Regions from separate parts of the Homo sapiens genome. Here all the other regions are linked to region 1. The links come from fine-mapping of genetic effects on gene expression. A gene starts in region 1. Each other region holds a variant in brackets. All regions are shown on one strand. Distances are between the middles of the regions.

Evidence for each region.
Region 2: its variant is fine-mapped to the expression of ACADS in thyroid (GTEx, PIP above 0.99).
Region 3: its variant is fine-mapped to the expression of ACADS in testis (GTEx, PIP 0.97).

What each region holds. Positions count from the first base shown.
Region 1 is chr12:120,722,000-120,731,905 of GRCh38, forward strand. ACADS (acyl-CoA dehydrogenase short chain) reads left to right here and starts at 3,827. Exons shown (of 10, transcript NM_000017.4): 1 at 3,827-3,932; 2 at 5,027-5,190. The coding sequence starts at 3,887. It overlaps UNC119B (unc-119 lipid binding chaperone B), which reads left to right. Exons shown (of 5, transcript NM_001080533.3): 5 at 1-1,641. It overlaps MIR4700 (microRNA 4700), which reads left to right and starts at 1,194; the gene lies at 1,194-1,267. RefSeq lists an enhancer at 3,499-4,000 and a silencer at 3,637-4,146.
Region 2 is chr12:120,763,708-120,773,613 of GRCh38, forward strand. SPPL3 (signal peptide peptidase like 3) reads right to left here. Exons shown (of 11, transcript NM_139015.5): 7 at 5,246-5,352; 8 at 4,618-4,781; 9 at 3,687-3,886; 10 at 2,556-2,665; 11 at 1-1,363. The coding sequence ends at 1,292. Among named protein-coding and RNA genes, the nearest start is that of ACADS, 43 kb to the left of the region's middle. RefSeq lists an enhancer at 7,595-8,095. The variant G/A (reference allele first, on the strand shown) is at 3,568.
Region 3 is chr12:120,742,012-120,751,917 of GRCh38, forward strand. No RefSeq gene overlaps it. Among named protein-coding and RNA genes, the nearest start is that of ACADS, 21 kb to the left of the region's middle. RefSeq lists a silencer at 5,694-5,909. The variant C/G (reference allele first, on the strand shown) is at 5,331.

The DNA.
Region 1 (9,906 bases):
GTGGGACAGTTTCTACTATTTGATATTTGAGTATTATCTGGGATGTGGTTCTGGAGCTGCCCAGAGCTGTGCTTAGTAGAGTGTGTCTTGGAAACATGCCCCTGGGCACACTGTATCTGCTACATTAGTGGGCTATCTCTTATCTGCAGTGTTCGCTTTTGCTAGAAAGAGGATGTGGAGGAAGGAGGAGGTGGGCAATCTGGCTTGAGTTGTGCTGTATCCTCTTCCTTGTTAGCTTGCCTTAGTCTCACTGGAGACCATTTGCGGATAGTGCTTGGTCCATGCCCAGCAGGACAGGGCTTTGCTGCTTCTGAAAGTCTGGTGTTCTGTATCTGGGGCTGTGGGTTCCTGTGTCTAGCTGCTCAGGAAATCTTGAGAAGCATTCCACTCTGGGGTGTAAACCAGTATGAGTTTGAAATTCAAGCGTTTGTACCTGAGTTGGGGAGAGAATTGCAAGGCATACTTTCTCTGAAAGTAACAGAACCATTCAGGCTGCCATGTTATTAAGGAATCTGAACTGTTGATAGCAGTTACCTTGTGGGTGATACAATGGGAGGCGGCAAAAAAACTACCTGCATAGGAGACCCTGCCCTTTGTCAAGAGCTGGGAGCACATTTCATCAGAGTAGCAGGCCCACCTGGTGCCAGAGGGCCTGCCCCTCCTGCTTCTGTTCCTTTGCCTTGCAGTCTCCTGGAGAGAGCCTCTCTTTTCCTGTACAGCCTTTGGGCCAAAATGCCCTTCTAGCTTCTCCAAAGAAGATCCGAGTTTATTTCATTCTATGTTTTAAGAGGTAAAAGGACATAACAAGTGAAAGAAGTTTTGGGCTAAAGTAGGCTATGTCTCCTTATGTATTACTCAATACTGTTTTGCAGAGAAAACATTTTTCAAGCATGTGCTTCCTGAAGACACCTCAGTCTTTGGGCCATTTGATTTCCAATACATAGGGTGGAAGAATGTGATTTTGGGGCTGACCATAAACTGGAAATTTGTGAAATGGCAGTGATTGGGCAATCTTCAGTTTATTTTTTCAGTTGAAGTGGAACTCATTTCTGGAATGGATTTAATAGGCTGTGTCTAATGTACAAACTGGGTGAGTCCTGCCTTAGTGTGTCCTGCCCCACCGGTACGCTTCCAGGATACTCTTTTCCCCTCTGTAAAGTCACTTTCTTCTGATGGCCAGTGTCACTATGATGTCAGTGAGGTCTGGGGATGAGGACAGTGTGTCCTGAAATTCACAGGACTGACTCCTCACCCCAGTGCACGAGGATTCCTGTGGCATCAGGTGCTGCTGTACCTGGTGTAGGAGCCTAATCATTGAACCATTGTGTTACTCACATTCCATGTCACAGAACATATCAGCCTCAAGAAGGATTTGGTGGAGGTGGATTTACCACTGGTTTTACAAAGGACCGTGTAAAGTCATTGAAGTTGTGAAAGTCTATTTTTTTTCCTGTAAATCTATTTTTTACAGAATATAAGAAACATCAATGACCTGATCTGTCCTTCCTCCTCCTTCCCGCTTCCCCCAAAATCACATTCCAGTTTTTATTGTCTTTGTGTCCAAAGTAAACTAGGTGACTTATTTGTATAAAATGTTATTTTGCCACATGAGACAGTAATAAAAGAAAGATTTTCACAGTACGTCTCCCTCGTCCTGTCTCCTGATTGTTGGGCCCGTTGTGTTGCTGAGGGGAGCAGGGGCGAATGGGGGCTCCAGGTTTCTCTTACTTTGGCTATTATGTGGCCCTTCTGTAAGTAGTTGAACTAGAGTATAGCTGGCTTCTAGGGTGATTGAGGAATTGTACTGGACTTTAGGCTTAATATTTTTGCTTTATATTTTCCCAGGGTGAGTGGCTTTGTAAATTGAAAGTTTACATGCATGTTTTAAAGGTAGGGTTTTTTTTTTTGAGATGGAGTTTCGCTCTTTTTTCCCAGGCTGGGATGTGATGGCATGATGGTGGCTCACTGCACCCTTCGCCTCCCGGGTTCAAGTGATTGTCCTGCCTCAGCCTCCCAAGTAGCTGGGATTACAAGTGCATGCCACCACGCCCGGCTAATTCTGTATTTTTGGTAGAGACAGGGTTTCCCCATGTTGGCCAGGCTGGTCTTGAACTCCTGACCTCAGGTGATCAACCCGCCTTGGCCTCCCAAAGTTCTGGGATTACAGGTGTGAGCCACTGTGGCTGGCCATAAAGGTAGGCTTATTAAGAAATACTTTAACTACAGTAAAATTTACCTCAATTAAGAGTATTGATGCATTTTGACAAATGAATACTTTTATTACCCATCACAATCATGATATAGGACATTTCCATCGTACCCACTCAGAAAGTTCCTGAGTTCCTTGTGTTTGCAGCCAGGTGACTTCCCCCACTTCGCCTCTTGCAACCACTATCTGATTCTGTCTCTATTGGAAAACTTGGATACTTTTAAAATGAAATTTGAACGTTCATATTTACAGTCACAAATTCTCAAGAGTCTGGTTTAGATGCTCTGTGGCACCTGAAGCAATTATTGGCCTTTGCTCACAAACACAACTCACTTATTTCTCCCTTTTCTCCTGCTTCTTCATCGTTTCTTCCACCCAGGGCTGGTTCCCAGGTGGGATGACGGAAAGGTGAGGAAGCCCTTAGAGCATTTGCCAATGGGAGCCATTCATTTGACTTTAAAGTACTGAGAATTTAGAGGCGTTCTTTTAAATGCATTATTTAAAAAGAAAGGTAACACATTAAGGACTTTGCTGCATCTTTTGATTGGCTTTCTTCTAGGAAGTAGTGACCGAGGTTTCCACTTTCCTCCAAGAGGAAGAGACAGAAGTTTTGGCAAATAGGTCAATGCTGGGAACAGATGCCTGCCTGGCTGAGTGCTGGGAAAGAAAGGCAGTTGGAGGGATGTGTGGGTGCCTGGGAGGGCGTGGGTGGTGCCCAGGAGGCTATGGGAATCAGAATCACACTTGCACAAGAGAAGACCCTTATGGGACAAGTAAAATCAGCATAGTTTCTTGGGCGGGGCAAAGGTGTCCTGATGAGGATGCTAGGGGTCAAATATGTGTCTGGGTTCTGCCCCAATCGGGAATGAGACACAGTACTGAAGTGGAACGGGGGTAGCATCTCCACCCACCTTCACAGCCTCTGGGGAAAAGAAAGCTTTCCTTGCAGCCCAACTCCAGGGGCCTAAATATTGAGCACCAACACAAGACAGGTCCTTGAGCTTCTCGGAGCGAGTCGGGGAAGCAGATAATTTCAGATGCAAAGTGCCTTGAATAAACAGAACGAAAGATAGAGAGCCAGAGGGGGAGAAACGGCTTGGTGTGGTCAGGGCAGGCATCCATGAGACCTAAACGAAGAGGGGGCATTCCAGACAAAAGGAACAGTGATCACAGAGGCCCCGAGTCAGGAACCAGCTAAGGGTCTTAGAGAAGAGCTGCCTCGTAAAGCTAAGCAACAATAACCAGGGAACGGTGGGCATGGGCCCTGATAGACAAGGCAGGTCTTGGCTTTTTAAGCCATAGAATTGGATTTTAGGAGGGATGGGCCCGCCGACAAAGCCAACAAAGTTTTAACCCGAAGATCGCTATCTTATTTATGCTTTAAAAAGACCTCTCTGGCCTTTCTGCGAAGCTCTATCCTTAGCTTTCTCTTGTTAGCATTTTGATTAACGAATGTGGGCACGAACAGCCAGCTGACCGACCGCGCGCGCAGTCGAGCGTCGGTTCCTCGCCTTGGGAGGGACCACTGGAGGCCCCGCCCCCTGGCCGCGAGCGCACCTCGGCCCCGCTCCCGAGGCCCTACGGGCGTGGCCTCTGTCCCGGGTCCCGCCCCCCAGCACTCCGGAACAGCGCGCTCGCAGCGGGAGGTCGCGAAGCCTGGGACTGTGTCTGTCGCCCATGGCCGCCGCGCTGCTCGCCCGGGCCTCGGGCCCTGCCCGCAGAGGTGAGTGCGCTGGGGATCCGTACGGCGGGGCTTCAGCCCGCGTCTGGCCCAGCGGGCGGAGGTCCTGGCGGCCGGCTCTGTCAGAGCCGCTGGCAGGCGGAGCCCCACTCCGGGAGCGCTCACGGCCTTTGCCCCAGTTCTGCTGCTCCTTGCGCCGACCCAGCCCGGCCCTTCAGGCGTCCCTGGTTCCTGCACAGACCCCTACCCCCCGATTGACCCCAGCCACCAGCCCAGTTCCCAGTTCCCATATCTCCCTCCCTTCATTTCACCCCCACTAGAGGTTCAGGGTGCGTCCTTCTTCCGGAGCCAGGCCTGGGATTGAACCAGACCCGCATCTGTGACCTTGGGCAAGACAGCCCCTCCTCAGCCTCGGTTGGCCCATGTGTAAAATGTCCACAGAGAAAATCAGAGTTGTTGGGAGGATTAAATCATAGGGTATGTAAAGCACTTCGTGCCTGGCGTGTAACAGGTGTTCCACAAATGCTCGTTCTTGCTGGTTAATACAGTACCTTTCCCATCTTACGTGTCTCCAGTTGTAGCAGCCGTGACACATATAGCCACGGCTTCCTTTGCCTGGCCTGAATTACAAGGGGAACGCTACTGAGAACTGTGTTAAGCGCTAGTTAGTCTTTCTTTCGCACTCCGAGGAGCGGAATACTATTCGCCTCCACTTGTTATAGAAACGGAGGCTCACTGACGTTTAAAACCCTTGCCTAAGGTCACAGAGCTGAGGTCTTATTACTGTTGGTATTATACTGAGGACTGAAGGATGTAGTGTATGGAAATGTCTAGTGAGTGTACTAAGCATTCAGTTAGTATGGGGTTTTCAGTGGCCGCCATGGACATTTTGGGCTGACAGTTCTTTGTTGTGGGGGCTGTCCTCTGCCTTGTTGGATGTTCAGCAGGGATCCCGGACCCCTATCCACTGGGTACCAATAGTATTCCCCTGCTCTAGTTGTGACAACTAGAACTGGCTCCAGACATTGCCAGATGTCCCTTGGAGGGCAAAATCCTCCCTGGTGAGTTAGTGGGTCACTAGGATTCTTGGAGACCTCCTGCCTCCTCCTTCCACTCACTTCTGCCCTTGCCGGCAGCTCTCTGTCCTAGGGCCTGGCGGCAGTTACACACCATCTACCAGTCTGTGGAACTGCCCGAGACACACCAGATGTTGCTCCAGACATGCCGGGACTTTGCCGAGAAGGAGTTGTTTCCCATTGCAGCCCAGGTGGATAAGGAACATCTCTTCCCAGCGGCTCAGGTGAGAGTGCAACCTCAGCAGCCCACGATAGTGGTCTGCCCTCTGCTACTGGATGAATGGTGGCAGTGACAGTCAGCGGCACTCGGACTCTGGTAGAGGAACCCCAAAGCAGGGCCTGGAACCCAGAAAATGCTCTGGAAGTTTCCCTTGTCCAGCCTGTGGCCAGTAGCCAGGACTTAACTTCTGGGACAACAGTAATATGTGGTGGATGGTCAGTTGCTTACTGTGCCAGCCACTGTGCTCATTCTAAATAGTGCCTTTAGGGTGTTTGGCATGCACTAGGCACTGTTCTTGAGATGGGTTATCTCATCTGTTCCTCACAACGGTCCTGTGAGGTGAAGGTACTATTCTTATTTATTTTTTTGAGACGGAGTTTCACTCTTGTGGCTCAGGCTGGAGTGCAATGGTGCGACCTCGCCTCACTGCAGCCTCTGCCTCCTGAGTTCAAGTGATTCTCCTGCCTCAGCCTCCCAAGTAGCTGGGATTATAGGCGTGCACTGCTCTGCCCCGCTACTTTTGTATTTTTAGTAAAGACGGCGTTTCACCATGTTGGCCAGGCTGGTCTCAAACTCCTGAATTCAGGTGATCTGCCCACCTCGGCCTCCCAAAGTGCTGGGATTACAGGTGTGAGACACCACGCCCGGCCAAAGGTAGTATTATTATATACCCCATGGACTCAGACTTGTGAACAAGTTAAATAACATACCCAAGGTCATGGAGCTCATCAGCGGCAGCCTGCTCGACCTATTTTCTTTTTTATTTACTTATTTTTTTTTGAAATGGACTCTCGCTCTGTTGCCCAGGCTGGAGGGCAGTGGCGCAATCTCAACGCACTGCACCCCTCTGCCTCCTGGGTTCAAGCAATTCTCCTGCCTCGGCCCCCAGTAGCTGGGATTACAGGCGGGCACCACCACGCCCAGCTAGTTTTTGTACTTTCAGTAGAGATGGGGTTTCTCCATGTTGGGCAGGCTGGTCTCAAACTCCTGACCTTAGGCGATCTGCCCGCCTTGGCGTCCCAAAGTGCTGGGATTACAGGCGTGAGCCACCGTGCCCGGCCTGCTTGAACTGTTTTCTCCCCTGAGTTTCCCATCAGCGCGCTCCCTCCCGTGCCACTGTGTTCTTCCATTTGCATTCAGTCTGTCTGCAGCTACGCGTTGAAGATGTTACTGCCGTACACGCTGACCTAAAGATGTCCAGCACCTGGTGTAAACACTCAGTAGTAGATAGTTGTTTAATTAATGATTTGTGAAAAGTCAAACCTCTCCGGCCTCTTCTCCTTGCCTGTTTTTTTTTTTAATTTTAATTTTAATTTATTTTTTATTTTTAAAAATTTTTTGAGACAGTCTTGCTCTGTCACCAGGTTGGAGTGCAGTGGCGCGATCTCGGCTCACTGCAACCTCCGCCTTCTGAGTTCAAACAATTGTTTCCTGCCTCAGCCTCCCGAGTAGCTGGGATTACAGGCGCACACCACCATACCCGGCTAATTTTATGTATTTTAGTAGAGACGGGGTTTCACCGTGTTGCCCAGGCTGGTCTCAAACTCCTGAGCTCAGGCAATCCACCCGCCTCGGCCTCGCAAAGTGCTGGGATTACAGGCGTGAGCCACCACACCCGGCCTTAAAAATGAGTTTTAAAAGGGACGTAAAACATTGTTTTTATATGAGGGACCCACTAACCGTTTCCCAGATATGAAGGCAGCAGGTGCTGCAGGCTTGCCTTGTCTGTCACTGCTGGGAAAGGGGTCTTACAGTTTCTTACGGTTTCTCTTGGGAGTCTGGAGACCACCAGGCTCAGCCTCATCAGTGCTGTTGCCTCTTCTCAGGGTGCAGGTCAGGGTTGCTGGGTCACAGACACTAGGAACCAAGAGTGACCATTGCAGGGGGCTCTAGGAGGCCACCCCTTGAGATAGCTCTGAAGGTCAGGCCTCTCTGTAGAAAATACTAAAATATTGGGGCTGGGACGGGCGCCTGGCTGCTGTTAGTTAATTACCATCAATTTACATAGGTCAGAAACGATGGACAAACCCGAACCCATTTTTTTCCCTTGACTGCTTCTCTTTTTCTTTTTTCTTTTTTTTTTTTTTTTTGAGATGGAGTCTCACTCTGTCCCCCAGGCTGGAGTGCAGTGGTGCGATCTTGGCTCACTGCAGCCTCTGTCTCCCAGGTTCAAGTGATTATCCTGCCTCAGCCTCCCAGGTAGCTGGTACTACAGGTGCCCGCCACCATGCCTGGCTAATTTTTGTATTTTTAGTAGAGATGGGGTTTCACCATGTTGGCCAGGCTGGTCTTGAACTCCTGACCTCAGGTGACCTGGCTGCCTCAGCCTCCCAAACTGCTGGGATTACAGGTGTGAGCCACTGCTTAATTATATTTTGGGTTTCTCCTTTTTGACTGTCTCGTCTCTTCCCTCTCCTGCCACCCCTTTTTCCTTCCCTCGGTGCTGGTCTCCCTGTCTCTTTTTCAGGAGGCCCTTTAACGAGTGCACATTACCATGGTTATTGCTTTTGTCCCCACTTTTTTTCTAGAATGTTCCTGTAGCTGGCCACAGTTTGTTGCCTGAAATCTAGAGATAAATTTCAGAGTGAGAAGGCCTGGGAAACAGCCCCTGTCACCACTGATAAAATGGGGTGAGGTGACTGTGTCCAGGCTCTGGGATGGGATGGAGAAGGCTGTGCTCTTAGGTGCTGCCCCAGAGCGGTGCTCCTCTCTTTTGAAATTTGCTGTCTCAACACCAGAGTGGGAGTGAGTGGAACTGCCATGTCTTTCACAGCCACAGGTAGATGCTTTATTTTTTAAATTATTTTTGTGTGTGTGTGATGGAGTCTCGCTCTGTCCCCAGGCTGGAGTACAGTGGTGCGATCTCGGCTCACTGTAGCCTTTGCCTCCTGGGTTCAAGCAATTTTCCTGCCTCAGCCTCCCAAGTAGCTGGAACTACAGGTGCGCACCACCACACCCGGCTAATTTTTGTCTTTTTAGTAGAGACGGGGTTTCACCATGTTGGCCAGGCTGGTCTCGAACTCTTGACTTTGTTATCCGCCCGCCTGGGCCTCCCAAAGTTCTGGGATTACAGGCATGAGCCACCGCGCCCAGCTGGTAGATGCTGTAAAAGAAAATGCTGATGGTGAGAAAGGAGGGAAGACAGGAGCTGGGGGAAAATTGAGGGCGATGGTATATGCTAGTGAGGTCCTTTGGGTGTGGGAATTGTGAATTCCTACAACTTTTGATTCTAGCTCATTGAGAAGTGTCGCATTAGTCAGAGGGAGGCGGCGCTGTGTAGGGAGGAGGAGGCTGGGGTTCTGTCTTGCCTCCTGGTGGCCTAGACCTGGCCACTGACACCACATACCCTTTCTGTGTGAATTCCCTCATCTGTAAGAGGAATATGGGGTCACCCTCATTCTGCTACCTGTCGGGACGTGTGACCAAGCATTTTAGGTGAGTATGAGGAACTGAACGCACCTAGGAGAGTTTCATCCTTTTACTCTCTTTCTGGGAATTTGGGTTCCCACTGTGTTTCTGGGGATGAGATGGAGTTATGGAGCGATTGGCTCATGTGCCATTTATTCCAGGGTTTTATACCAACAAGTTCCGGGGTGAAAAGGAGGGTGTGTCTCTGTCCAGGGAGATCTGAAGGTGCTTGGAGGGTGAGGCGGCTTGAGCTAGTTTAGCCTTATTCTGTTTTGCTGGTAAGCTAGAGAAAAAGGCTTTTGGTGAGGTTCATGCCTAGGCCTGACCGTGAGTCTTGGACAACTGCATATTTATTTTTGTTTTTGTTTTTTTGAGACAGGGCCTCACTGTCGCCCAGGCTGGAGTGCAGTGACACAAACACAGCTCACTGCAGCCTTGACCTCCCGGGCTCAGGGCTCAAGTGATCCTCATGCCTCACCTCCTGCAGTAGCTGGGACCACAGGTGTGCACCGCCATGCCTGGCTCATTTATTTTTATTTTTATAACTTTTTGTGGAGATGGGGGTCTCGCCATGTTGATGAAGCTGGTCTCAAACGCCTGGACTCAGATGATCCTCCTACCTCCGTCTCCCAAAGTGCTGGGATTACAGGCCTGAGCTACCACACCCTCTTTTTAAAATTTTTTTAATTAAAAAATTTTCTTTTAGAAACAGGGGTATCATCATGTTGGCCAGGCTGGATTTGAACGCCTGGGCTCAAGTGATTCTCCTGCCTCAACCTCCTCCTGAGTAGCTGGAGACCTGCGTATTTCTAGCACTTGGTAGAGTATTGTCCAGCAGCAGAGGTGTTCCTTAATAAAATAGTTTTTTTTTTTTTTTTTGAGGCGGAGTCTCACTCTGTTGCCCAGGCTGGAGTATAGTGGCACGATCTTGGCTCACTGCAACCTCCACCTCCTGGGTACAAATGATTCTCCTGTCTCAGCCTCCCAAGTAGCTGGGATTATAGGCGCCCACCATCACGCCTGGCTAATTCTTGTATTTATTTTATTTTATTTTATTTTTTTTATTGATCATTCTTGGGTGTTTCTCGCAGAGGGGGATTTGGCAGGGTCATAGGACAATAGTGGAGGGAAGGTCAGCAGATAAACAAGTGAACAAAGGTCTCTGGTTTTCCTAGGCAGAGGACCCTGCGGCCTTCCGCAGTGTTTGTGTCCCTGGGTACTTGAGATTAGGGAGTGGTGATGACTCTTAAGGAGCATGCTGCCTTCAAGCATCTGTTTAACAAAGCACATCTTGCACCGCCCTTAATCCATT
Region 2 (9,906 bases), 42 kb after region 1:
CAGAGGGGCATTTGACATGTGTCCCCAACACCCGGTTGTCACCACAGGTAAACCAAGACTATAATCACAACAGCAAGGACAGGATTGTGTTGCTTTTTTCCTTTTTTTTTTTCTTAAAGGAGTGAGGGCATGGAAAATATACAGCACACCAATGAAACAAAATGTCAAAAAAAAAAATACAAAAAAATAGAAAATAGAAAAATGTATTTACAAGTAGTACGTTACTATGATGAGAAAGCACAAAGACACCTGCTGCTATAATACATGCATTGGCTCGAGAAGAAACTACGGAACACCCTGCGAGGGAGAAGCCTAGAAAAGAAAGAAAGGGCCAAAAGGTTTGAACTCTTCATCCCTAATTTGCTACACTGATCAAAACCAAGTAAGGGCTCCTGAAGTCCATGAGTCTATCATCAATCAGCACAAATGCTATACTAGTTTGTAACTGCGGGGTCAGTTGTGAAGGGGAAGGACAGCAGCTTATCCATATACAAGGAAGCCACAGTAAACTGCTCGACATGCTCAAAACGACAGCAAGCCCCTGTCAGCTACACAGCGTGATCTTAGCAGGATTTCATTTTTGTTTATTCATATATATCTATGTGTGTGTTTATATATATATATGTACGTATGTATAAAAACCGTGCCCTTGTTCACTGCCAACACAACATCTGGGTGGACATGAACTCATTACAACAAATTCTTATGTGGATGTTGTAAGAAGTCACTCAATGTCTGTGGATTTAATAAGTCACTTCACACCACAGAAAATATTTAATAAATCCAAAAAAAGGAAAGAAGAATATAACGACAGAAGAGCTTCTGTCTCAGTTCTCTGAAACTGAGTCCCCTATAGGAAACTGGTCCCAAAGTTCTCGAGGGGTCATTGAAGAAACTTCGGTTTGCTAATTTTTTTCATCCTTTTAGTGTTCAAAAGTTCTAGAAAGACTCCTCGCTGTTTTCAGTTTTTAAACAGTCAAATCTCCATCTCCCCCAGAAGGTAACAGTCTGGTGCAGATCCATAAAAACGTGGGAGGAAGGCGCGCTGGGGAGAGGCCTGTCCCTCTTGGAAGGGGCCCCACCTCTACATCCGCAGGAAGAGAAGGAACCAAACAGGGCTCCAGCACCTCTCTCCTGCAAACGAGCTCCCTTTAAATGCCAAATCCAGTCACACGGCAGTTCCTTAAACACAGGTACATTTCTGAGTACCAGGCCAGCTCTAAGAGGAAACAAACCATGAGTTGAGAGAAAAGGACTATGACGGCCATCTGGTCACTTTCCACGTGATCCATCATACTTCCAGGAATCGGGAGCTGCTGGACTTGGAGTGGAAAGGCTCAGACCACATCCGCCGGAGGTCGCCCTGGGAAACAAGGGACTTTCTAAGTTACAGATTTAAACATGAGGCACACACAGCTGTCTGATTCTTTAAAAAAAAAAAATTTTTTTTCCAGGTATGAAGTCTTCCTATATATTGGCCAGGCTGGTCTCAAACTCCTGGGCTCGGGCAATTCTCCTGCCTCGACCTTCCAAAGTGCTAGGATTACAGGCATGAGCTGCTGCGCTTGGCCCCTTTCTGATATTTTTTTTTTTTGAGATGGGTTCTCACTCTGTCACCTAGGCTGGAGTGAGTGCAGTGGCGAGATCTCAGCTCACTGCAACCTCCGACTCCTGGGTTCAAGCGATTCTCTTGCCTCAGCTTCCTGAGTAGCTGGGATTACAGGCACTCACCACCATGCCCAGTTCATTTTTGTGTTTTTAGTAGAGACAGGGTTTCACCATATTGGCCAGGCTGGTCCTGAACTCTTAACCCGCCTGCCTCAGCCTCCCAAGGTGCGGGGGTTACAGGCGTGAGCCACCATGCCCCTGGCCCCTTTCTGATGCTTGATCTGAGATCAGATTGCTTCTGTGGGAAACCAAAGAGCATTTAAATCTTACCCATTCAAAAATAACCCACTATTTTTAGGAGGACTCCCTAGAAGGGGTGCTTTTAGGCTCCCTGAGCAAGAAAAGGGCTTTTATCAACTCTCTAGAGGTAGTGAGTCAAGTGAGCTGGGCAAGTAAGTTGACCTCTGTATCTGCTTCCTCATCTGTAAAACGGGGCTGAGAATAGATATCTGGGAAATAATGTGCTCTTGAACTCTGGTTTTATCATATGCTGCCTCAACACTATTCAATCTTAATTATTCCCAAACTTTAACGTAGTGTTAAGCTGTTAGGTGGCAGGAGGGCACTGCTTTGAACAGAAGCAGGAAGTACCCTCAGCTGGGCTCTGGGGCTTTCAATTAGTTATTCCTCGACCAGGTGGTGTAGTGGTCTAGCTCATCAGCATTTTCTGTCAGTGGCTGCACGAATCTGGAAGCGTTTGCTAACGCCAGGGTAGCGCGCGCGCGCACACACACACACACACACACACACACACACACACACACACAGTCGAGATCACAAGCTCACTCAGGGGCTTAAGCAGAATCACCTCCAGCGAGGAGAGTGCAAACCGAGGCACAGGCCAATCCAAGTTATTGCTTTCACAGGTTTATAACTGCTGCTCTCACCTTTAAATAGGCCATCGTGAGGAGTGGCAATAAAGTAAATGGCACCAAATAGAGAAGGGCGGGCTGGGCGGCCCGGTGAATGCGAGACGCCACAGTAGCAGTGAGCAGGCCTGTGAGGAGAGAGAGGCATCTGTGAGACACGAGAGGGAACCCGTGTCACCTGGCTGCTGCTGGGCAAAGTCCTGCAACTGTACAGATCTAATGTGCTGTCGTCCATTCTATGGTTGGGGTGTGAAATGCCCAGCTTGGGCAGTTGAAGAAATGTGGATCAGCACAGCTTTAAAAAACACCTACAACTCCAAGGACACATGACTGACCCAAGTCTCACTCCTTGCTCAGGTTCCTGGGTTCAAACCCTCCTTCCAGCTCCAAGTGTGCCTCTGTCTCCTGTGATGCTGGACTTGGGAGGCAGAAGACCTGGGTTCAAGTTCCAACTCTGCTACTCACAATAGCTAACATAAATGTAGTTCAGACCTTCCACCTCTCTGAGCCTCAGCTTGCTCATCTGTCTAATGGGGATAATGCCACTTGCCTTGCCCCTCTGAGTTTGTGGACTGAAATGAACCCATGTGAATGAACTGCTGTGGGACGAGGACAGTGCTGGGGTTGAGGAGGACGTACGGAGTGCAAAAGCTCCTTTCCAGTCACTGTGCGGGAGCAGTTGCATGTGCGGGCAGGTTACTGCTTTTCCCAGCCCCATCACAATCATCTCCTGTCTGCCTACACATGAGCTGGCTACAAAACTTGGCCTAGGTCAGAGTGGCAGAAATGTAGAACTAATGAATGTAAGTAAGTATCTATTGAATAAAGTAGGAAATAAATACGACAGTCATTCAACTCTAGAGGAAGATTTAAGCACAGACTAATCCACTGCACTGTGTGCTGTGTGTCCTTGGCTTTGAGGACTGACCTGCTTTTCCTACAACGTTCTTCAGATACACAGCTGGAGAGGGAACTGGCCTATCCAGTACACAAAACACTTAGCATCTCACGGGCCAGGCTGTCTATTACA[G/A]CACCCAGAATTCCTGCTCTCCTTCCATCCAGTAACTGTAGCTAGAAGACCTGATTTAATTCCAAAGGTTGGAGGACAGCCAGAGCGAGGATCATCTGCAGTCTCTCTGGTTCTCTTACCTACAAAGTATCCGATGAGGGTGCAGTGAAAGTAGGAGACCTTCTGCATGCGCCCGGAGATGTTGGCAGGTCCAGGGGCCCCACAGGAGTCCCCACTGGCTTGCTTTTTGTAGTTGTCATAGCGAAGGACAAAGCATAGTAGGAGACCAGGCATAACGATGTCTCCGATGCCCAACATGGAGAAGTGGCTGCCAGTGGAGCTGGAATGCAGTTTCACAGGTTAGTGACGTCACACTCTACAATCCAGTTTCTATTCCTTTTGTGCAAAGTTTGTTAGCTTTTTAAGGAGTCAAAGAGCTTATCTGCATGGCAGATGGAAATCTCTTCTGATGGAACATTAGTTTTAAGAGTGTAGAGAGAAAAAGCTGCAACAGTACTGGCACTAGAGGTCTCCACCTTGGCCCCCCTGTTTCAGGAGAGCCCCTTGGAAGTGACTGCTGAAGTGATTTGCATAAGTGCTGCTTCCTCTAGAAATGTCAAACAATTCATCATTTGTGACACATTCACTGTTGAGACTTCAAATAAGCACCTGGCTACTATTACAGGTGGAAGATTAAAGCAGCACATTCATTCTGCCAAGATTATATTACCAGGAGTTGTATAATTCTACCATTAGAACTTATTTTTATAAATATCTTACAAGTTAAAAGGATCGAGATTCTCCTAACTCCCTCCAGCCAACTCTAAACAGTGGAAACAGCAGTAAGGCATGGCTGTTTGCTGACATTAATCAATAATAAAAGGCACCGCCTGGATCACTCAGTGATCCTTCTTGGCAAGCCAAGAATCTCATCCTCATTTCCTCTTCTGCAGCATGGAGATAATGGCCCCAGGTTGGGATCAGAATGCTGATGACATTAGAGACTGATCAAGGCCGGGAACAGATAGGCACAGGAAGACAGTGTGGTCCTGTCATAGCATGAGGTCTTACCTTGGGAAGACCAGTTTTCCAGGCAGAGACAGGCGAGGAACATCACGCCCAACATTGGGCCCCAGGTGGAGCTTCCGGGATAGAACGTCAAGGGGATTGTCAGCCGGCTGAGTGGCCACCTTCACCATGACGTTGCTATTGAAGATGTAGGCTGAGAAAAATACCTGCCGAGTTGGAGAGATGCCTTTAACAGAGGGAGTTGGAAGCAACCTGCTTTCAGCATCAGCCCTCCTTGCTCTTAAGAGCAGAGTCTCAGAATGCTGTGACTGCAATGCTTTCGTTGACTGTATGATTTGAGAAAATCTTTGCTCTTCCTGTGTACTTGCCAATTTCTGCACTCTCCACACCCAGAGATTACTCCCTGACGGGGTGGCCCCCACTGCAGCGAATCTTGTCAGCCTGTTACCTCTTCTATCCTAGGAGTCACACACACACACTACCTACTGTACGACTTTTCAGCAAACAAAAGGATCGGACTGCACACCCATGATACAGTTAAGGACTGGAGAGAGAGTGATCAGCAGCTGGGCAAGCCCGACTTTGGATACTTCTAGTTAATAGTTTTCAGGCATGAATGCTTCACTTCAACACAAAGAAGGGGAGGAGCTCCAAGGACATAAACGCTTACCCAAAAGACATCATAGATGAGAAGCCCTGAGAGAAGCAGGCAGGAGACCTTGAGGCTCGGCAGGCGGACAAAGGCGATCATGGCGACACAGAGGCCCATGGCCAGTGCTGGGGAGGAGACAGGGTACAGCAGACAGCAGTCAGTGTGGACTCCAGGCTCATCCTCTTTCCACAAGCTATGGCCCTTCACAGAGTTTGCAATTCCCTCAAAAATCAGGCAGCCCTAAGCTCCAGCTTCAGAAACTTACATGCAACTGGTGCAAAACACCCGCTTCTTCAGCCTGTTTGGACTTGTGGAATTTGGGGTGATTGCTTTCCTCCTCCTAGACATAGTGCTCGGCTGTTGGAGACCCAGGAAACCAGTCCAAGACCTCCAAGCTCTCTTTTCCTGCCTTCCCTCCAATGTTGTGGATGTGTTGTCCTTGCTCCCTGCTTTAAAGTGAACTCACACCCTAGATAGCACCCCCTTTCATTCACTGGAGGCATCATCCCAGCAATTCATTAACTGCGTTATAGAAAACTAGAGAATACAGTAAAGCAAAATAAAAAAATTACATTCCCACTTTTCAGAGATTACCACTGTTCAATATCTTCCTAGAATTTTGTTTTTCTTTTTGGAGATGGAGTCTCGCTGTATCACCCAGGCTGGAGTGCAGTGGCACAATCTCGACTCACTGCAACCTCTGTCTCCTGAGTTCAAATGATTCTCCTGCCTCAACCTCCCGAGTAGCTGGGATTACAGGCACCCACCACTACGCCCAGCTAATTTTTGTGTTTTTAGTAGAGATGGGGTTTCACCATGTTGGCCAGGCTGGTCTCGAATTCTTGACCTCAGGTGATCCACCTGCCTTGGCCTCCCAAAGTGTTGGGATTACAGGCATGAGCCACTGCACCCAGCCAATAATTTTTTACATACTTTTTTTTTTTAATCTAATGAGATCACACAATCTGTTCCCCCCCTCCACCAAAGCCAACAACCCCCAGTTTCCATTTGGGTGAATTTTCACCTCATTTAATCAAATTTCTCTATAGACCCCAAAACATCTTTTGCAGATGGTTTGTCTGTGCTGGTTTCCAATCTGACATAGTCCACCCCACCACTTTTATTTTTTTTGAGACAGGGTCTTGCCCTGTTGCCCAGGCTGGAGTGCAGTCATGCGATCTTGGCTCACTTCAGCCTCTGCCTCCTGGGCTCAAGCAATACTCAGCCTCCTGAGTAGCTGGGACCACCGGCATGTGCCACCACACCTGGATAATTTTTGTATTTTTTGTAGAGATGAGGTCTTGCTATGTGGCCCAGGCTGATCTCAAGCAATCCTCTCACCCTGTTCTCCCAAAGTGCTGGGATTACAGGTGTGAGCCACCATGCCCAGCCTAAAGTCCTTTTTTTAATGACTTGCTGAAACTGGAGTCATCTGGATTTTTCTGTGCTTCTCTATTGCAGTGGTTGGCTTTTCCTCTATCCCATATATTTCCCATAAATTAGATGTTATCATTTGAGTGCTCGATCACTTCCAGCAGGGCTTTCATCCCTGCTACTCCACTGACACTGCTCCTGGGGGCTTGCCAAGGATCCCCTCATTGCTAGACACAGTAATCGACCTGTCCTCCTCTTACCCGACCTTTAGGCAGCAACCCGCCCAGCTAATGGCTCCCTCCTTTTCCCTTGATTCTCAGGACAATGTGCTCTCCTGTTCCTCCCCACTCACTGGCCTTTTCAGGCTTCTCTGTAGCTCCTCCTCAATTCCCAGAACTCCACGGGCCTTTCCTCAGATCTTTTCCTCTCTCAGTGATCTCGTCCAATCTCAAGGCTCTTGACACTATCTATCTTATATGTCATCAACTCACACATTTTAATTTCCAGCCTGAATCTCTTCTTGGAGCTCCAGACTCATACATCCTGTGGCCTAAGAGACATATATACTTGGCTGTCTAGTTGGCCTCTCAAATCTAACATGTCCAAACTCAGCTCTTAACAGTGCAGTCTTCTGTCTCCAAGCATTTACTCTTTGCTTCCAATTGTGCAGACGGAAATCTGTGATGTCGTTTTTGACCCGTCTCTCTTTTACACCCTGCCTGGCTTAAGCCGCCATCCTCTCCTGGCGTGCATTGCTGCAATGACCTCCTCCCTGGCCTCTCTGCCTCCAACTTAACCCCTAACAAGTCTCTTCTTCACAGTGCAGACAGAAGCAGCTTCTTAAACCCTAAGGCAGGTTTTATGGGGCCCCTAGCTCAAAACTCTTAAACAACTTCCCATAGAGTAAAAGCCACAGTCTTCATACTGGCTGACAAGGTCCTGCTGTGACGGTGACCCTTCAGGTCACCTCCTGCTACTTCCTTTGCCAGCCACAGCAGCCTCCTCACTCTACCCCCCATGCCGCCGCTTCGGCCACGCCGCCGCTTCAGTGCTCTGCATTTACTGTGCCCTCTGCCTGAACGATCTCCTCCCAGAACCCAACTGGCTCCGCTCCTCGTCTTTCACAGTTCTTCACGCAAGTACTAGCTTCTCAATGACAGGTGGACTTTCCTGCAATTACATTTAAGATCATACTTCCTGCCCTTGTCTTATTTTTCATTTCTCAACTTCTGATATACATAATTTCTTCTTTTTTTTAAACATTCTCACTGCCCTCAACTCCAGTGAAGGTTCCCCGAGAGCATGGCTCAGTGCTCACCCTTGTAGTCTAGGCCAGGGCCTGGCAGGTGCAGGGCCTCTCCCCTCCTTCAGCTCTCTTCCTCCACTGTTCTGCAAACACAGGTTTGATGAGGACACAGAGCTGTTGAGAAACTCTTCATGGGGTCTTGTGGTGGGATGAATGTCCAACTCCCTGGCCAGGGAGGGCACTCTCCACTGTACAGCCCAAGCCCTCAACACGCATTCCTGTGGCTCTGTTTTCTAGACAGTTCAACACAATTTCCCGCTCTCCACACATACTGTGTTCTTTTCACGCTCTACCCAGAAGGTCCTGCCCCCGGCTCCTTCATATGGAAAATCCATCCTCATTCTGGAAGAGCCAGGTCAGGAGTCCTTTCTCAGAGTCTTTCCTGATCCAACCAGTCAGTTGCTGCTGCTCTTTTTTTGTTTTTTTGAGACAGAGTTTTGCTCGTTGCCCAGGCTGCAGTACAATGGTGCAATCTCAGCTTACTGCAGCTTCCACCTCCTGGGTTCAAGTGATTCTCCTGTCTCAGCCTCCCGAGTAGCCGGGATTACAGGCATCCATCACCACACCCAGCTAATTTTTGCATTTTTAGTAGAGACAGGGTTTCACCATGTTGGTCAGGCTGGTCTCAAACTCCTGACCTCAGGTGATCCACCCACCCCGGCCTCCCAAAGTGCTGGGATTACAGGCATGAGCCACCGCGCCCGGCCCAGTTGCTTCTTCTATGTGATGTGCCATAGAACGTTGAATGTCTCTCAACTCACTCATCCATTCTATGACCTTGTGAATATTTACATACTGGTAAGTTTATTCCCTGTGCTAGCTGACCACGTGCTCCTGGGAAACAGAAACCATGTCTGATTCTTTCTGTGGATCCCTAGCACTTGACAGAGTAGACATTCAATAAATACTTGCTGAATGAATGCAAAACTGTGTTCTATTAACTTCAAATTTCAAATTATTCTAAGGAAAGTAAAAAGCCATATGAACAGATATATTTCATTTTCATAGAACTGGTGGTAAATTGTCAATATATGTAATAAAGTGGATAAATACAGCAGCTTGGCAGACCCTGGACACATCAACTAAATTACTGTTTCATGGGTTCCTACTGTGTGCACGGTGCTAATATAAACACAGAGGAGAAAAAGCTGCCTCATCCCTACAACTCAGAGGAGTTGGAAAGACAGTATTCAACCTAGGAAGAGCAAAATATATATCTTCATCTCCACTATCATCACTGTTATCAAGCGCTCACTGAGTTACAGGGTGAGCTGCAGTGTGAGTTCTGGAGAGATGTGGTCAAGATCTAATTCCTGACTTTATAATCATATAGAATGTTTATTATACTAAGGTCTCCTTTAATTTTTAAATAAATTCATACAACCAACCTGGTAAAATGTATACAAATGCATGTCATTTGAAATGAACCTAATGAAATGTATTAGTCAGTGAGGCTTGACAAAGCTCAGAGCATTCAGAGCTGCAAAGGGATGACTGAAACATGATGTTTAGGACACTGAGAGATGTACCCAGAGCCCCTGCTCTGATCAACTCACACGCATATTTGAAAGGACAGGACCTCCCATGATCATCATCTTTAGGAAACAAAGATTTGGTTGTGTCATGAGTCAATAACCAGGACATTACCAGGGAGCAGCTCATCTGGCTGGAGGAACAACAGTGGTCAGCAGCAGGTGGGAAGCCCATCGGGCCAGAGCACAGGTGAGACACAGGTTTGTGTATAGATACTGGCTAGGGTGATCTGTTCATGGACTTACAGGTGAATACATGGAATGCAAGGCATCAAGGGCACGAAGAAAGTAACAGAAGGCCTAGGATGGACAGACGGGAGACAGGAGTCTGCGGGGAGTGAGGGTCAGAGGACTGAATGATGCAGCTCACCAGTAACCAAAAGCGGGGCAGGGAAACAGACTGAACAGAGAAGCAAGAGGCCAGGCTCCTCGGGGTAAGTTTATTCGCCTCTGTGACACATGTAGAC
Region 3 (9,906 bases), 20 kb after region 1:
AGTCTGTGCACTCGGGGGCTTTGAGGTGCCGTCGTGGGTCCGGGGTCTGTCCTTCGGTGAGGGAGAGTCGGCACAAACCCTTGGCTTTGACGGGGTGCTGCCCGTTAGTGGAAGCTCCTCCTAACTTAGAACTGAATGTGGACTCTGCCCCCGGGCCACTGGAGCCCGAACTGTCCTAGAGCCCATGCCCCTCTGGATACAGTTTCCTCAGTGTAGATTTCCTAAGGACAAGGACGTTCACTTACAGAACAACAGGACCGTTTCCCACCCTGGTCAACTTTCACATCTGCACACTCCACTCGGATTGTGCCAGCTGGCACGGTGTCTGCGAAGTCAGCTCTTCTCAAGGTCCAGGGGCCTGCATTGCATGTAGCTGAGAGGCCACCTGTTTCCTTCCCTCTAGCCCTCTGGGACAAGTTCTCCATGCTTTGGTTCTTTTTTTTTTTTTTTTTGGAGATGGAGTCTCGCTCTGTTGCCAGGCTGGAGTACAGTGGCGCAATCTCGGCTCACCGCAGCCTCCACATCCCGGTTTCAAGCGATAAAGCGATTCTCCTGCCTCAGCCTCCCGAGTAGCTGGGGTTACAGGCATGCGCCACCACGCCTGGCTAATTTTTGTATTTTTAGTAGAGACGGGCTTTCATCATGTTGGCCAGGCTGGTCTTGAACTCCTGACCTCAGGTGATCCGCCCGCCTCGGCCTCCCAAAGTTCTGGGATTACAGGCGTGGGCCACCATGCCTGGCCTGAATTCATACATTTCTAAGTGTGGCTTTTGCTTCATCTCATACATTTTAGTGTCATATTTTCCTTATTACTCAGTTTTCTGAGGCCCATTGTGCTTTCTATTTTGATTTATCAGTTATTTAGGAGAGTATTATTATGTTTTGAGACAGGGTCTCTTCTCGCTTGGGCTGGAGTGTAGTGGTATAATCGCAGCTCACCACAGCCTTGACCTCCCAGGCTCAGGTGGGCCTCTTACCTCAGCCTCCCAAGTGGATGGGACTACAGGCGCCACCACACCTGGCTATTTTTTGTATTTTTAGTAGAGATGGGGTTTCACCATCTCTACTAAACATGTGACCAGCCCAGGCTAGTCTCAAACTCTTGGGCTCAAGTGATCTGCCCGCCTTGGCCTCCCAGAGTTCTGGGATTACAGGTGTGAGTCACCATGCCTGGCCAAAGAGTATTATTTTATTAATATGGGGTTTTCTGAGGTATTTTTTGTTAATGATTTTTAAAAACTGTGACGGAGTTTACAGTTTTAACCATTTTCAAGTGTACACTCAGTGGCATTAGGACATTCATCATGTTATGCAACCATTGCCACCATCTAGTTCCAGAACATTCTCATCACCCCAGCAGGAAACTCCATACCTACTGTTGCTGGTTTTTACCTTAATTGCATTGTGGTCTCAGCACATTTTCTGCACTATTTGAATTTTTTGAAATCTGTTGAGATGTGCTTCACGGCACTAAGTTACTTTTTATGAAGATTGAATATTAGCAATTTGGTTTTTCCATGTTGATACGTGAAGTTCTAGTTCATTTATGTGGATGGCTGCATGGTGTCCCATGGGATAAACTATATTGAGGTAGTTTCCTGCTTTTTACTCTATAAACCATGATGCAGTGGACATTCTGGCATGTGTGTTTTTCTAATGTGAGAACTTGTGAGCATTTAAATCGAAGTGGGCTTGCTGGGCCTTAAGGCTGTTTATTTCTTCAGCTTCGCCAGATATTGCCAAATGGCCCTCCAGAGGTTGGATCAGTGGTCGGATCACCCTCTATGCATATGCGAGGGTTGATGACGCGCATTCTCCCCGTTCCTTGGCACCCACAGATTTTACAAACGTTCTTCAATATGGTTGTGATTTTAACTTGCATCTCCCTGGTTTCTTGAGAAACTGCACGTCTTTTCACGTGGTGATTGGTCATTCTGGTTTCTGCTGTGAATTGCTATTGTCTGTTTCTTCTTTGGGTTGTAATTGATTTGTAATTGTCCCACGTGTTTACTCTTGATACTAATCATTTGTCAGATATCTGGTTGCAAAAGGACTCATACAGTGTGTGGTTTTCCCTTTATTTATTATTTTTTTTTGAGACAGAGTCTCGCTCTGTAGCCCAGGCTGGAGTGCAGTGGTGTGATCTTGGCTCACTGCAAGCTCCACCTCCTGGGTTCACGCCATTCTCCTGCCTCAGCCTCCGGAGTAGCTGGGACTACAGGCACCCACCACCACACCCGGCTAATTTTTTGTATTTTTAGTAGAGACGGAGTTTCACCGTGTTAGCCAGGATGGTCTCGATCTCCTGAACTCATGATCGGCCCGCCTTGGCCTCCCAAAGTGTTGGGATTACAGGCGTAACGCACCGCACCCAGCCTTCCCTTTTAAAAAATGGGTTCAGCCAGGTGCGGTGGCTCACGCCTGTAATCCCAGCACTTTGGGAGGCGGAGGCGGGTGGATCACCTGAGGTCAGGAGTTCGAGAACAGCCTGGCCAACATGGCAAAACCCCATCTCTACTAAAAATACAAAATTAGCCAGGCATGGTGGTGTGCGCCTGTAATCCCAGCTACTCGGGAGACTGAGGCAGGAGAATCGCTTGAACCTGGGAGGTGGAGGTTGCAGTGAGTGGAGATTGTGCCACTGCACTCCAGCCTGGGCAACAGAGCAAGACTCATCTTAGGAAAAGAAAATTTTAAAAAATACAGTTTAGTAGAAGGAATACGTTCTAGTGTTCACACAATATGGTGATTATTGTTATCAGTATTTTTTGTATATTTCAAAACAACTAGAAGATTTAGTATGTTCTCAACACAAAGAAGCGATAGATGTTTGAGGTGATGGATACCCAGTTACCCTGATTTGATCATTAAACATTTTATGCATGGATCAAAATATCACACGTACCCCATAAATATGTACAATTATTGTGTATCAGGTTAAAAAAAAAAAAGGCTCTTATGTGTAGCAGAAGGGCAGACATGGTGCAGGCAGGCCAGAGACCTAACAGGAATTTGCAGAGCTCCAGAGCCTGAAGACTCAGCCCCGGCAGATTGCTTAGGCCAAGGGCAGGGGCGTGGGAAGGAAAACCTGGCATCCGGAAAACGGAGCCATCTGAACGGATGCCCCTGATGCTGCTCTCCAGCCCAAACTCTCCAGGGTGCAGAGGGTGGCTGCCTCTCCATAGGAAGGTGAGGGCTTCTGCTACTGGAAGAGTCTGCGGAAGCCGCTCCCAACAAGGCCACAGGTGCCCCTCTGCAGCGGCCCTCACCTCCTCTCCTGGCTGCCGGGCCCATGACTGCGGTCGAAGCCCAGTGTCACCCAGCTGGGGACAGGCTGGAGCTGATGAGAAAGCGACGCTACACTGGTATTGGTTTTCTACTCTAGCAACACATCACTACACGCTTAGTGGCTTGAAGAAATACCCATCTTAAAGGGCCAGGCACAGCAGCTCAGCCCTGTAATCTCAGCTCTTCGGGAGGCCGAGGTGGGAGGATGGCTTGAGCCCAGGAGTTCAAGAGCAGCCTGGGCAACACAGGGAGAGCCCATCTCTACAAAAAATAAAAAATAAATTAGCTGGACGCAGTGCCGCATATCTAGAGTCCTAGCTACACAGGAGGCCAAGGAGGGAAGATCACCTGAGGCCAGGGATGCAAGACCAGCCTAGGCAACATAGTGAGACCCTGTCTCTACAAAAAAAAAAAAATTAGCCAGGCTCAGTGATGCATGCCTGTACTCCCAGCTACTTGGGAGGTTAAATTAGGAGGATCACATGAACCCAGGAGTTCGAGGCTACAGCGAGCTGAGATTACACCACTGCACTCCAGCCTGGGCAGCAGAGCAAGGCCCTGTCAAAAAACCAAAAAAAAAAAAAAACCAAAAAAACAAACCCATCTCATAGTTTTCATGGTTCAGGAGTCTGGGCGTGGCTTAGCTGGATGCTCTGTCCAGGGTCTCACAAACTGAAAGCAAGGGACTGCAGTCTCATCTGAAACTCCGTTCCCTTCCACGCTCACGTGAGCATTAGCAACATAGCAAGGCCCCATCTTAAAAAAAAAAAGATAAACATATAAATACTAAAAGAGTCCGAGGAAGTGAGACGGGCGAGTCAGGGGACTCATGTTTTTGGTACGAGATTTTAATACAATTTGATTTTTGTGTATTTTATATTTAATACACAAAATGAAAACATGGCATACCAAAACCTATCATACTCAGCCGGGCGCGGTGGCTCACGCCTGTAATTCCAGCACTTTGAGAGGCTGAGGTGGGAGGATCACGAGGTCAAGAGATTGAGACCAGCCTGGCCAACATGGTGAAACCTCATCTCTACTAAAAATACAAAAATTAGCTGGGCATGGTGGCATGCACCTGTAGTCCCAGCTACTCAGGAGGCTGAGGCAGGAGAGTCGCTTGCACCAGGGAGGCAGAGGTTGCAGTGAGCCGAGATAGTGCCACTGTACTCCAGCCTGGGCGACAGAGCAAGACTCCGTCTCAAAAAACAAAACAAACAAAAAAAAAAACTATCATACTCATGCTGATGAAATTTAAAATCTACATAAATGATTTATCTTCCAGGAAAACAAATACACAGAATTGATTCTAGAGAAGGCAGAAAAAACAAACAAACACAAAAAACAGACCAGTAAGACTAGAACAAATTGAAAAGGAGTTAAACATTTGTCCCCACAAAAGGCATCTCCTAACAGAGTCAGTGGAAATGTAACTCAACTGGAATTGCCTCTCAGAGCAGGCGGAAGGGTAAATTGGTACAATTATTGAGGAGAAATGCTGTATTCCAACAATGAGCATACATACAACTATAAAAAAGAATGAACTACTGACCATAAATTGCTAACATGGCTGAATCTTACAAATGTAACATTAAGCAAAAAAGGTTAGGCTCAAAGCTGGGCACAGTGGCGTGCACCTATAACCCTGGCTACTTGGAGGCTGAGGTAGGAGGATTGCTTGAGGATGCTCCAGCAGTTGGAGACCAACCTGGGAAACATAAGGAGACCCCCATCTCAAAACAAGCAAACAAAGTTAAATTTAAAAAAAGGTAGGCCAGACATGGTGGCTCACGCCTGTAATCCCAGCACTTTGGGAGTCCGAGGCAGGCGGGTCATGAGGTTAGGAGATCAAGACCATCCTGGCTAACAGAGTGAAACCCTGTCTCTACTAAAAATAACAAAAATTAGCTGGGCGTGGTGGCGTATGTCTGTAATCCCAGCTACTCAGGAGGCTGAGTCAGGAGAATCGCTTGAACCCGGGAGGCGGAGGTTGCAGTGAGCCGAGATTGCACCACTGTACTCCAGCCTGGGGGACAGAG[C/G]GAGACTCTGTCTCAAAAAAGTTTATAGTCAAGACTTCATAATGTATTCACTGTATTACATGAATTTCAAATGCAAGCAAAACTAATCTGTGGTGACTGAAATTAGAACAGTGGTTACCTTGGGGGCCACTGACAAGAGGCACAAGAGAAGCTTGCTGGGTGCTGGAAAGGTTTTATATTCTGATCCGAGTGGTGGTGGTTCAGGTATAGTCATGTGGAAAGAGTCACGAAGGCTGTACACTTAAAATAGGTGGACATTAATGCTTCCAGCTCAGTATTTTTTTTTTTAATAAAAAAAAAAAAACACGGTATCTGGCCCAGATGGCTCTATTGAGAGTTCTAAAAGAGGCAAGAGGAAAGGCCAAGGGTTTCCACAGTCTGCGTTTCTGTTGTGAGCAGGCCTGGCTTACTCAGTCTTTGCTGCTCTCTGGGAGTGCCTGGAGCTATGGCACTGACCTGGGACAAGCTGAGAAGGAAACTCTTGGAAGGTGCATGTAGTTACTGATGAATGTTAATCTGTAGGCCTGGTGCACTGGGGCAGGATGAGCAGCCTGTCAGATGTCAGAATGTTTAACATCAAGATTTAGGATGTGCGGCCGGGCGCGGTGGCTCACGCCTGTAATCCCAGCACTTTCGGAGGCCGAGGCGGGCGGATCACAAGATCAGGAGATCGAGACCATCCTGGCTAACACGGTGAAACCCCCGTCTCTACTAAAAACAAAAACAAAAAATTAGGTGGGTGTGGTGGCGGGCGCCTGTAGTCCCAGCTACTCGGGGCCGGGGGTGGGAGGCTGAGGCAGGAGAATGGCGTGAACCCAGGAGGCGGAGCTTGCAGTGAGCCAAGATCGTGCCACTGCACTCCAGCCTGGGGGACAGAGACAGACTCTGTCTCAAAAAAAAAAAAAAAAAAAAAAAACTTAGGATGTGCGTCTGGCCTCTGTTTTGGAGTGCTGTGTTTTGGTTACCATGGCTGGTCATGTGGCAGGAAAGTGCCTATGTGACCATCTTCTTAGAACAACAGGTTTTGAGACCTGGGTGTTTCCCTGGGCAGAGACATCTCACATCTCTGTGGTTCACACCTGGAAAGAAACACACCGTGCAGCCTGCTCTCGGCCTCCCTGGACTTTGTCTATGTGTATCTTTCTCTCTGGTCCCGTGGTGTATCCTTCGCTTAGTCAACCTTAGCTGTGATATAACCTCATCAGGTCATGTGAATCCTTCTAGTTAATAACTGAAGTAGGAAGGGGTCCCGATTCATCCGCCATAGCCCCCAGCTCTGCCTCACTCAGGTCTGCTGTGCTCCCCTCTACATTTGCTCACAACCGCCTTCTCTCCCTAGAATTTTCTTCTGATCTTTAGTTCCCTGAATCAATATGCTTTCCTTTAATCTCTATAGCACTCAGGCTTTGGCTAAGGCAGGAAGCCAACAACCTATATGCTAGTTCACCACCTTGGGGCAAACCAGAAGTCACCCACTATTAAAAAAAATTGTTTATTGCTGACATATTTCGTTTTTATTTCTGTTTATCTGGTTATGTTGAAGAACTTCGTTAGTTCTTTCAATAGATTATCCACTCAGGCCGGGCATGGTGACTCACACCTGTAATCCCAGCACTTTGGGAGGCCCAGGTGGGTAGATTACCTGAGGTCAGGAGTTCGAGACCAGCCTGGCCAACATGGTGAAACCCTGACTCTACTAAAAATACAAAAATTATCCGGGCGTGGTGGTGCACGCCTGTAATCCCAGCTACTTGGGAGGCTGAGGCTGGAGAATCGCTTGAACCCGGAAGGCGGAGGCGGAGGGTGCAGTGGAATGGTATGGTGCCGCTGCACTCCAGCCTGGGCGACAGAGCAAGACTCTGTCTCAAAAAAAAAAAAAAAAAAGCCTTTTTTTACACTCCTCGATACCAAGGCTCTCTGGTGCTCACACTTAGCCGTGAACTGCTTGTTCACAGTTCTCAGTTTCTCACTTGCTGCAGATAGAGCATCAGGACGATTGAGCAGTGAGCAGCCACCTCGGCACTTTCCCTGGCATTGTCCCACCTCCACCCTGGATAGCCTTCAAATTCTGCATCATCACAGCTGCCACAGCATTCCCTCCTCCAGGACATTCCCAGGTCACCACTGATCAGATCTTTAGCAATGGAGCCACCACGCTGGGCTGGGATCTATTTATGCCACCTACTGACCAGAACACCAGAACACCTTGATGTGGGTCATTTTTCATTCATTTAGCTGGGCACGTGGTGGGTCTTTCCATCTAGAGATCCATGTTTTTTTCCTCCATGTTCTTTAATTCTTGGAACTATTACATTATTTCTTTGATAATTTTATTCACTTTTTTTTTTTTTTGAGACAGGGTCTTGCTCTGTTGTCCGCACTGGAGTGCAGTGGTACAATTATGGCTCACTGTAGCCTCAGGCTCCTGGGCCCAAGCAATCCTCCCACCTCAGCCTCCCGAGTAGCTGGGATTACAGGCATTTGCCACCAGACCTGGCTAATTTTTTTTTATTTTTAGTAGAAACAGAGTATTGCTATGTTGCCAGGCTGGTCGCAAACTCCTGGGCTCAAGTGATCCTCCCATCTTGGCCTCCCAAAGTGCTGGGATTATGGGTGTGAGCCACTGTACCCAGCTTGATTCACTCTTTTTTTTTGGTTTGCTTTCTAAATTCCTAGAAGTCTGATGTTGTACTTTCTTGGTCGAACCTCTAATTTTCTTTTCTCTCCTATTTTCCTACTTTGACACTCCTATGTTTGAGCAGATCATCGATTTTATTTTTCTATTCTTATTTGTTTGTTCAAAAATGTATATTGAGCACTTATTCTAGGTGCTGGAGATACAGCAGAGAAAAAGACAAAGCCCTTGTTTTTTGTTTTTTTTTCTTTTTTGAGATGAGGTCTTGCTCTGTCACCCAGGCTGGAGTGCAGTGGCATGATCATAGCTCACTGCAGCCTCAAAGTGCTGGACTCAAGTGATCCTCTGCCTCAGCCTCTCACATAGCTGGGACTACAGGTGCACACCACCACACTAAGCTAATTTTCTTTAATTTTATTTTTTTTTAAGATGGAGTTTTGCTCTTGTCCCCCAGGCTGGAGTGTAATGGCACAACATCGGCTCACTGCAACCTCTGCCTCCTGGGTTCAAGCGATTCTCCTGCCTTAGCCTCCCTAGTAGCTGGGATTACAGGCACCCGCTACCATGCCCAGCTAATTTTTTGTATTTTTAGTAGAGATGGAGTTTCACTATGTTGGCCAGGCTGGTCTCGAACCCCTGACCTCAGACAATCCACCTGCCTCAGCCTCCCAAAGTGCTGGGATTACAGGCGTGAGTCACTGCGCCTGGCCTTTTTAAAATTTTTAGTAGAGATGGAGGTCTCACTATGTTGCCCAGGATGATCTCAAACTCCTGAGCTCAAGTGATCCTCCTGTAACCCCAAAGTGCTGGGGTTATAGGGATAAGCCACTATGCCTGAACCCTTGTTGATTTTGGATTCCAGTTTTTTTTTTTTTTTCTTTAAGCAACAGGGTCTCACTCTATCATTCAGGCTGGATTGTAGTGACGTGATCACTGCTCACTGTAGCCTCCAATTCCTAGGCTCAAGAGATCCTCCTGCCTCAGCCTCTCTGTAGCTGAGACTACAGGTGGCGCCACCGTGACACACTTATTTATTTTGTAGAGACGGGGTCTTGCTATGTTGCCCAAGCTGGTCTCAAACTCCTAGCCTCAAGAGATCCTCCCTCCTTGGCCTCCCAGATACTGAGATGATAGGCATGGGCCACTGCGCCTGGCAGTTTCTTTTCTTAATTCTTCCCAGTCACACTGTGTGGTAGTGAGAGAAGGTGGTCAGTTGTTTTCACTTTTCTGAATATGAGGCCTTGTGAGAATCGAATACATGGTCCGTTTCCATCAAGAGTCCATGAGAACTGAAAAGGTTATGTTTTGTATGATGGTAGAGATTAATAAAATTGAACGAATGTTGATAATTTTATTCTGATTCATTCATTCATATTGCAGCAGCTACTATATCTAAGATACTGTGCAAACCATTGGGAGAAACAGTGGGTGAGCAGAAACAATTCCTTTTTTCACAGTCCTTGCAGGCAAGCTAGTGCTGGTGGTGCTAGTGGCAGACACTAATCACATCGCAGCCTCAATGGGATGCGTGCAACGCAGGAGAGGAGCAGAGTTCTAGGAGAGACTAAAATAGAGGAACCTGAGCTGGAATGCTGAGTCACAAAAGGCTTCCCTGACCAGGTGACAGCTGAACTGAGATCTGAGGGATGAGTTGGCGTGAATGAGACAAAGAGCCTAGAGATGGACAGCCCAGGCCTGGGAAATGGCTTGTGCAGATGCCCTGTGGTGGGAGAGAGCATGGTCTTCAAGGAATGGAAGAATGGCTGGAGGACGGAGCGGGAACACGGCGTGAGATGAGCTGGAGAGGCGGACAGCCATCTCGGGTACAGTCCTATGGGTCACATAGATTTCTGCCTTGTCCTGGAAGTGACAAGGAAGCCTTTGGCGCATTTGACTCAGAGAGATGGTGTACAAATGTTTTTGTTTGTTTGTTTTTACAGA